2 separate regions of the Homo sapiens genome follow, and region 1 is reported to be linked to region 2. The links are microRNA targets in miRTarBase. Many come from high-throughput screens and were not tested one by one. Region 2 holds a microRNA gene; the other region holds the end of a gene's coding sequence.

Region 1 (4,000 bases), not on the chromosome of region 2:
CATCTACATAGCTTTCTCTCTCCAGGTAATGGGTGGAGGTTGGCATGGCCCTGTGGGTGGACTGTAGGCCTGTCTCTACCCTGAGTTTGCAGGAAGGAGTCTGGCCCATCCTATCGAGGGAAATCCTGGGGGTGGGGAACATGCTTTCCAGAAAGAGAGTTCCCAGCTAGGCCTTTCCTCACTGGTATTCCTTCTGCCCACAGTGCCTCTACTACGTGAGGGAGGCCCATGGCATTGTGGTGACGGATGTGGCCTTTCTACCTGAGAAGGGTCGTGGTCCAGAGCTCCTTGGGTCCCATGAAACTGCCCTGTTCTCTGTGGCTGTGGACAGTCGTTGCCAGCTGCATCTGTTGCCCTCACGGCGTGAGTCATTGGGGCAGGGCAGGCAGGCACCACCCCACGTTTAATGACCAGAAACGTGCCCCCCGGAGGCTGGGCTCTTTGTGCCACTCCTCCTTTGAAGGGTTCTGGTTTTCAGGCTGGGAAGCCCTTTTGCCCGCTGACCTCCTCCCTTTCCCTCCTGCAGGGAGTGTTCCTGTGTGGCTCCTGCTCCTGCTGTGTGTCGGGCTTATTATTGTGACCATCCTGCTGCTCCAGAGTGCCTTTCCAGGTTTCCTTTAGCTTCCCTGCTTCCTGGGAATCAGGAGCCTGGACACTGCCATCTCTAGAGCAGAGTGGAGGCCTGGACTCCCTTTGCTCACTCCATTCGGGTCCACAGCTGAGGTTGCCGCTGACAAGATGAATGGGCACTGCCTGCCCTTCTAGTGAAAAGGCTTGGCTATGGCCCTGTGTGACTCCAGGTCCCAGGAACCTTGCCTTCGTCATCTGTGGATCCATCCAGAACAGCGGTATCTGAAGCCCAGGCCATACTCCCTGCCTCCTTTCTTCTGCCTACCAGAGGCTCCAGAGTTGAGCTTGTCCTTATCTAGAAACATGTGAAGATGCCCAAGAGCCTGGAGGCACTGCTGTCCTTCCTGCAGAAACAGTTTCTCCTCCTCCCCTCAGCCTTGTGGCCAGTTCCTCTTCACATGAAGCCCCTGGCATTTGCTGGGGAAGGGACTGGCCTGGTACTTGCTGTTAGGGCAGGAAGGGGCAAAAGGAAGACTTGGGTAGTAATCTGGGGGTTCAGATGGGTAGCACTAAGCCAGCTGGCCTAAAGATGCAATAAGTTCCTAGGTAGTCTACCCTTACCTTGAGGAATGGGAAAATGAACCTCAGCCCATTAGGCAGGAAAAGTTGATATTTAATAAACAAGGAAAGAGTGAACTGAGACCCCAAATGGTACTCTTGTCAGCTGTTTCTGTCCTCAGAAGGTAAGAGAGCCCTGAGGTCAGGCAGCCCCTCTGGGTCCTGGAAGATGGCTTTGGCGTACTGATGCAAGAGGCGGCTCATGTACCAGTGCTGCCACGGGAGCAGCCCTTCCAGGAAGCCGATGTGGCCACCCCGGGCTGTGATGAGCAGCGCAACGTAGGGGGAGTGTTGGGCGGCCTGTATGGGAAGGGCTAGGAGAGGGTCAGAGGTTAGAAACACTGGCCTTCACTGGGAGCCCAGGCTGTCTGTTGCGTCCCTCATGGCCCATTTTCCTTGGGGCCAAAGTGTCCTGAATCAGAGTACTCACCACAGACGGGGGAGAAGGGGTCATCTGCTGCACTGAGATAGAGCACAGGGATCCGGATGGCATCTATCTTGGTTCTAGGGCTTGCTGCTTTGTAGTAGGTAACACAGTCTTGATATCCAAAGGCCACAGATGTGTAGCGCTCATCAAACTGGCGGATTGTACGGGCCTGCAGGTCTTACCATAGGATAGGCTAAGATGATAAAGAATAGGAAGATAGTGGAAGACTCATTTGGGGGAACCAGGGGCATGGCTGAATATTATACCTGTAGTACAAAGTCTATGTCCACCACCTTTTCAATCACCTTTCTGTTTCTGCAAAAGTACATAAGAGTTTGGCTTGACACCTGGATCTGATCCCCCACCCCCAGGCCCTGTCTTACTATCTCATGTGTGAGGAAGCCCAGAGAGAACTGACCAAGCACTAGGAGAGCCTGGAGTGTCTGCCATCCTACTCTGTCTACTGCCTCCTCCCACTTGCCACGACCCTACCGTTCCACAAGTTGGCAGAGCCCAGCAGTGAGGGGCTGATTGAAGAGCAGTGAGTTGAGTGGGGTTTCCAGGGAGCGAGTGGTCTCAAAGGAATCCCAGCATGCAGACAGAGTCAGTGCTGCCACCAGCCCTGCAGCCTGCCTGGCCTGTGCCAGGTGATTCAGCACCAGTATCCTGTGGAATTGGACAAGGGACCATGAAAGAAGGGTTTGCATTAATGTGGGTTGGGACAGAGGAAGGGGACATGGAGGAGGAAAAAAAGGAAGACTGGGCCTCTGGGCTAAGCCCAGGCAATCTTTACCCTCCAAAAGAGATGCCCACGGCCAGCAGTGGAGCTTGGGGATAACGATGCTTTATGTGGTTCACGACTGTCTCTAGATCTTCAGTATTGCTGGCACAAAAAGCCCTGTGGGTCTGAGGGCAAACCAGATCATTGGGTAGGGAGGGAGACCGTGGCCAGAAGGTGGAGGGGAAACTGAGGAAGGATAGGTAGGAGGTGAGCCCCAGGGCCAAGGATCTCTAAAGGGAGTGGGTGAAGGGCTGCTATGAGGAAGGCAGCTACTCACCCGCAGTTCCTCCCCACGGCAGCCCCGGTTGTTAAACACGACAGCCCTGTGGCACACACAGGTACATCTTAGCCAGACCCTTCTTAGCCCCTCTCCCCTTTCAGTATTCAGAAAGACCCCTGTCCAAAGACTCCCTTTGTGTAGCATTCTTCTTATCTATCAGTGTCCGGATTGACTTCTCCCTAATACACGTTCTCAGATGCCACCCCACTCTGGGGCTGCACCCATCCTTACTGGTAGCCATCCCTCAGAGCTTGGTTAACTAGGTGCAAGACGTATGTCTCCTGGCTACTGCCAGTGATGCCAGGAAGCAGCAGCACAATGGGCTGGGTAGTAGGATCAGGGTCTTGGCTGCTGTCAGGCTGCTTGGCCCAGTCTAGCAGGAGCTGGCCTCCATCTGGTGTTTGGAGGATGTCACTGGTTTTGGAGGAAGAGGCACACAAAGATACTATTAAGAACTTAATGTAATTCAAAAGCTTTGCCCCCTGCCCCACCCACAAACAAGTCTTATCACTTCCCGTCAGCATCATCTGAGGGTGTTCTTCATGTAAAACAGTAAGGCTTGACAATGTGTGATGGGGACATAAAAGATGACCTGGTGGCCGTGCAATTATATAGCCCTTCCATATAACATCCATTGTCATTGAACCCTCAACACAGGGATGTAGATGAGGCAGATTACCTACATTTTAAAAGTGGTAGATAGGTTTTTCCCTAGATACCTGGGGTTTCATGTTCACCCTGTTCTGTCCCTTCTTACCTCTGATAAAGGACTAGGGGCTGAGACTGCAGGAGGACTTGGAAGATGCTTTGTAGTCGCCCCTCAAAACACCACAGCGTTGGGTAGAAAGTCTCGGTGGTGATGGAACAGTGTGGCTCCAGGAAGGCCAGAAACTGCGGCCCAGCCACCAGCCGAGGCCTCTGTAATCACACAGCAGTCTGCCCCACTTCCCTGACTTTTGCACCAAGCTAGTGAGGCACCCAACACCAGAGGGTGAGGGGGCCCCCTCTCCAGAGCCCAGCCTGGAGGACCCTGCTTTGTCTGCATGTGAGATACTCAGCACAGCTCAGTTGAATGGCCAAGTCTGATAATACACTCCAGCTAGAGCCCCTAAAAAACCCAGTCCTGGAGTGTCACTGCCCAGAATTGACCCTGAACTGGGAGCTGCTGAGTTGACTGAGTGCTGACTTTCCTGCTCAGCCTATCCATGCCCCAAACCCATTTTGGAGAGAGCAGGTGATGTAAACAGCCACGCTCAGTGGTGTGCGCCTGTGGTCCCAGCCACTTGGGAGGCTGAGGTGGGAGGATCACTTGAGCCCAGGAGTT
Region 2 (4,000 bases):
CTCCTAATCCTCTTGTTTTCGGAACCGTCAGCAGATGCGGCTTCCTTTACCTGAATAATCCTTTAAAGGAGTAATAATTTTTAAAAAGGAGCTCGACCTCAGCCAAAGAGGACGGCGCACGAGATTAGGGCTTGGTAAGGAAAAATTAAAAGGCTCCCAATTCTCTCTGTCCCTCTCTGCCTTCCCCTCTACCCCTCCCCCTCCCTCCTCCACCCTCCCCTCCCCTCCCCCTTCTTCCTCATCCCCTGCAATCCGCGCTCGACGCGAGTTCACGCGAAGGGCTGGATTTCCAGGCGGCTCCGCAACTTGCGCGGCGCGGTGTTATTATTCATCCGAGGGTGCTGCCTCCTCAACCTTTGCCTCCTGCGCCGCTCTCCTTCCCCCGGCCGCCGCCGCCAGCAGTGCAGTCCCTCCGGCACGCATGCTCTGGTTCACCAAGAGGGAGACTGATTTTTTTTAAATCATGCTCATCATCATCATCATCATCATCATCATCATCATCACGTTCCTTATCATGGTTATCATTTCCTCCTGCCAGGTGGAGCGACCACCAGCGCCGGCTCGCCTCCTGCGCCTTCCCCAGCGAAGGCAGCAAGCAGTTCGGGCTTGGCCGTGGCGGCCGCTCCCAGGATGCTTCCTGCACCTCCAGCATCCCCCCCCTTATTCATCTGCCTGTGTATTATCTCGATCCTTTTCATTTCAGTAGATCCACTGCCTTTGGTTGGGCCGGCTGAATCGCTGGGGACTGCGGCCAGTCTCTTAAAAAAGGAGAACAAAAAGCCGAAGACCTTGTGTGGCCGCCGGGACAAAGCACCTTGGGTTCGGCGAGAAGGGACGCGCAGGAGCGCTGAACCCAGAACACGCGTGGCCGCTGCGGAAGGGCGTCCGCCCGGCGTGCGGAACGCTGAGGGTATTCGGATTGTCTTTTATTTGTCCCTGTGGCTTGCTTTCACAGTGTCTACGTAGGAGAGGGGTCGGGGTTGTTGGGGTCTCTTTTTTTTTCTGGGAGGGGTAGCTGAATTGTGGGAGACCTAGGTGGACTTGACTTGGCTTTCCTGCTACTCTGCGTCTCCTTCTCAAGATGCGGGGGTTGGAAAGGGGACAGGGGACTCAAGGCTTAGAAAAGAGAAGGAGCCCTCTGCTGCCTGGAGGGCTAAGGGAGTAGAGAGTGGAGATGGAGGTGAGTAGGGATGGGCCAGCCCGAAGAGCACTGAGGAGGAGAAGGGGTCTTCTCCTCCCTCGGGTCCAGTGGATGAGTTTTGCTGGGAATGAGAATTCGGGTGTCTGTCGATAGGAGCGCTGAGAAATTGATGAGAAATTGACATGTCCGTGCACATGCATGAGGCGGCGACAGGATTTGTGTGTAAACAGTGTGGAGAGGTGGAGGAGGGCATGGGGGTGGGGGCTTAAAATGATGTCTTATTGTCCTTTTGGCTTTAGGGACTCTCATCCTCTGTCTCGCCCCCTTTTTTTGACCCGGGGATCCAGCCGCATTATACACGAGTGACCTTTTAAATCTACGTCCACCCTTTACCTGGTAAAGCCCGCTGACAGTTGGGGGTGGGGTGGGGAGAGTGTAGGGGTGCTCTCTCCCTCTCTCCCTCCCTCCGCCTCTCCTCCCTCCCTCCCCCCTGCACTCCTCTCTCTTCCTCCCTCCCACCTCCCTCGCTCCCGCCCTCCCTGCTGCATTTTGCATGAGCTATCTAGGTCATTAGCATTTTAGCGTATGCAAGACTTGACAAAGCTGATGAGGGGCCAGATGGGCCTCGCTCTTATGGTTTTTTTTTCTTCTTCTTCTTCTTCTTCCTCTCTCTCTCTCTCTCTCTGTCTCTCTCTCTCTCGTCTCTCTTCCTTTCCCCCCTCCACCACTTGGGACCTGAGCGAGAGGACTGCAGCAGGCGAGTTCCGGAAGGCTGAATCCCCAGGTCCCAGCCCCGGACCGCGGCAACTCGCCCCTGCGGCACGCCCGGCCCGGCTGCGCCCCCACTCAGCGATGGAGGTAAAGAGGCGGCGGCCGCGCGCCCTGCCCCGGCTGCCGCTGCCGAGTCCCCGCTGCTCTCCTTGTCCTTCGCTCTCTTCTTCCTCCTCCTAGTCCCCTTCAGTTTCCTGGGCGAAGCAGAGGGCGACATGGGTGGGTGGGTTGCTGCGCTGGGGCGAGGTGGGGTCGATGTTGTTTTTTCATTGTCTGGAGCTGCAGGGGAGGCGAGGCGCGGGGAAAGGGGCGAGGGGAGCCGGGGTAATTAACACGGGGGAGGCACCCCTCCGTCTCCCACTTCCACCCACACCCCCATCCCTCCACCCCCTCCGCTTTGCAGGAAAAAGCCTGGATGCGAAAGGATGGGGGAGAACAAAGAGCCTTTGGAAGACGTCGCTGTTATCTCATTGTCTGTGTGATTGGGGGAGCTGCGGCGGGGAGGATGCTGTGGTCCCTTCCTCCGGCGTTCCCCACCCCCATCCCTCTCCCCGCTGTCAGTGCGCACGCACACGCGCCGCTTTTTATTTCTTTTTCCTGGTTTTCTTATTCCATCTTCTACCCACCCCTCTTCCTTTCTTTCACCTTTCCTTCCTTCCTTCCTCCTTTCCTTCCTCAGGAGAAAGGCCTCTCTCTCCGTGTTCACAGCGGACCTTGATTTAAATGTCCATACAATTAAGGCACGCGGTGAATGCCAAGAATGGGGCTGGCTGAGCACCGTGGGTCGGCGAGGGCCCGCCAAGGAAGGAGCGACCGACCGAGCCAGGCGCCCTCCGCAGACCTCCGCGCAGCGGCCGCGGGCGCGAGGGGAGGGGTCTGGAGCTCCCTCCGGCTGCCTGTCCCGCACCGGAGCCCGTGGGGTGGGGAGGTGTGCAGCCTGTGACAGACAGGGGCTTAGAGATGCAAACAGACTCAGGGAGAGAAACAGAAGCTGATTCTGTGACAGAAGCAGATCTGTGCAGCACAGATGCGGTGTGCGTGGGGAGGGGGTCGCCTGGGAGCGCATTGCGGAGTGCTTGTGTGTGCAGATTTTTCTCTGGGCTCAGGACTCATTGTATGTGGGTCAACACCTTCCTCCGTGACTGTGTTTTTGTTCTGAGCTGAGTTTTTTGGTTTGCCCTTAAAAAAATAATAATTTGGCATCCAGAGACTGGCAGACTGCCTCAGGGCCTGGACTGCGGATATATTGTGTTCTGCTTGAGGTTTGGGGAGGAGGGCAGGCGGTAGGAAGGGAGAGGGGGAGCTGTTTGTCACACTTTGCTGTAGAGCTGAGAGCACCTGACAAGCTTAAGGAAGTCGTTGGGCTATGTGGACAAGAAGGAGCCAGCTCCCAGCGGGTTCACAAGCTCTATCGGAGTTGAAAGCGTGGTCATGGCTCTAAGGAGCACCTCACGCCCTCCCTGTAGCTGTTATTGCAGTTTCAGGCAGAGATCCAGGAGCTGCAGAGGAAGGGAGAGGCACAATAACCTACATGGACCCAAGGGAGACATGTGTTCCTTTAAAAATGTGAACAGAAGGAAAAACAGAATGTGTGCAACTGGGGGTCTGAGGAAAGACTGTTTTGAAAGAGGCTGTCAGGGAATGGAAAGGGTTAAGCTTTTCATCCTGAAGAACCTGCTTCCCAAATCAGGCCTTCCTCCCATCACTAGACCCTGAGCAGCAGCTGGTCCTAGAGACCCCCCTCGTACTGCGCTGCCACAGTCTCATCCCATTTCCAGCTCTGTATTAACCACCAAGCTGCAGCGGATGGGGCAAGACCTAAGCTCATTAATTTCCAGGTGGAGGAAATGGAGGAGGGGCAGGTCCCTGCAGTAGAGGGAGGAGCAGAGAAAGGAGGCCAAGAGCTGGATCCTTCTGCCCAGGAAGCCTGCTGCATCCCTTCCCCCGAGCATGGCAGAGGCCTGGCTTTGCAAGGCCAAGGCCATAAGGGATGCTTAGGAGATTAATTTGATTCCTGACACAATAATCAAGCCCTAAGAGTCTCCACTGAAGCTTACTGAGGACTTCTTTCCTCTCCAAAGCCTCAGT

The links. Region 2 holds the annotated microRNA hsa-miR-124-3p (UAAGGCACGCGGUGAAUGCCAA, at 2,649-2,670, shown strand). A microRNA usually pairs through its seed, bases 2 to 8, with sites in the 3' UTR of a target mRNA and lowers its output. Matches are read on the target gene's strand: a 7mer-m8 pairs with bases 2 to 8, a 7mer-A1 pairs with bases 2 to 7 and ends in A, and an 8mer does both.
Region 1: the mRNA of PREB is a reported target of hsa-miR-124-3p. The part of its 3' UTR that is shown has no 7-base or 8-base seed match.

Annotation. Positions count from the first base shown.
Region 1 is chr2:27,128,035-27,132,034 of GRCh38, reverse strand. It overlaps PREB (prolactin regulatory element binding), which reads left to right. Exons shown (of 9, transcript NM_013388.6): 7 at 1-25; 8 at 204-363; 9 at 527-1,279. The coding sequence ends at 621. ABHD1 (abhydrolase domain containing 1) reads right to left here. Exons shown (of 9, transcript NM_032604.4): 2 at 3,434-3,594; 3 at 2,908-3,090; 4 at 2,674-2,719; 5 at 2,409-2,521; 6 at 2,108-2,281; 7 at 1,882-1,930; 8 at 1,619-1,784; 9 at 1,223-1,502. The coding sequence ends at 1,291. Among named protein-coding and RNA genes, the nearest start is that of PREB, 4.6 kb to the left of the region's middle.
Region 2 is chr8:9,902,069-9,906,068 of GRCh38, reverse strand. MIR124-1 (microRNA 124-1) reads left to right here and starts at 2,597; the gene lies at 2,597-2,681. It overlaps MIR124-1HG (MIR124-1 host gene), which reads left to right and starts at 2,740. Exons shown (of 3, transcript NR_024281.1): 1 at 2,740-4,000. It overlaps LOC124902057 (a long non-coding RNA gene), which reads left to right. Exons shown (of 4, transcript XR_007061170.1): 2 at 707-910; 3 at 1,441-1,537; 4 at 1,882-1,999.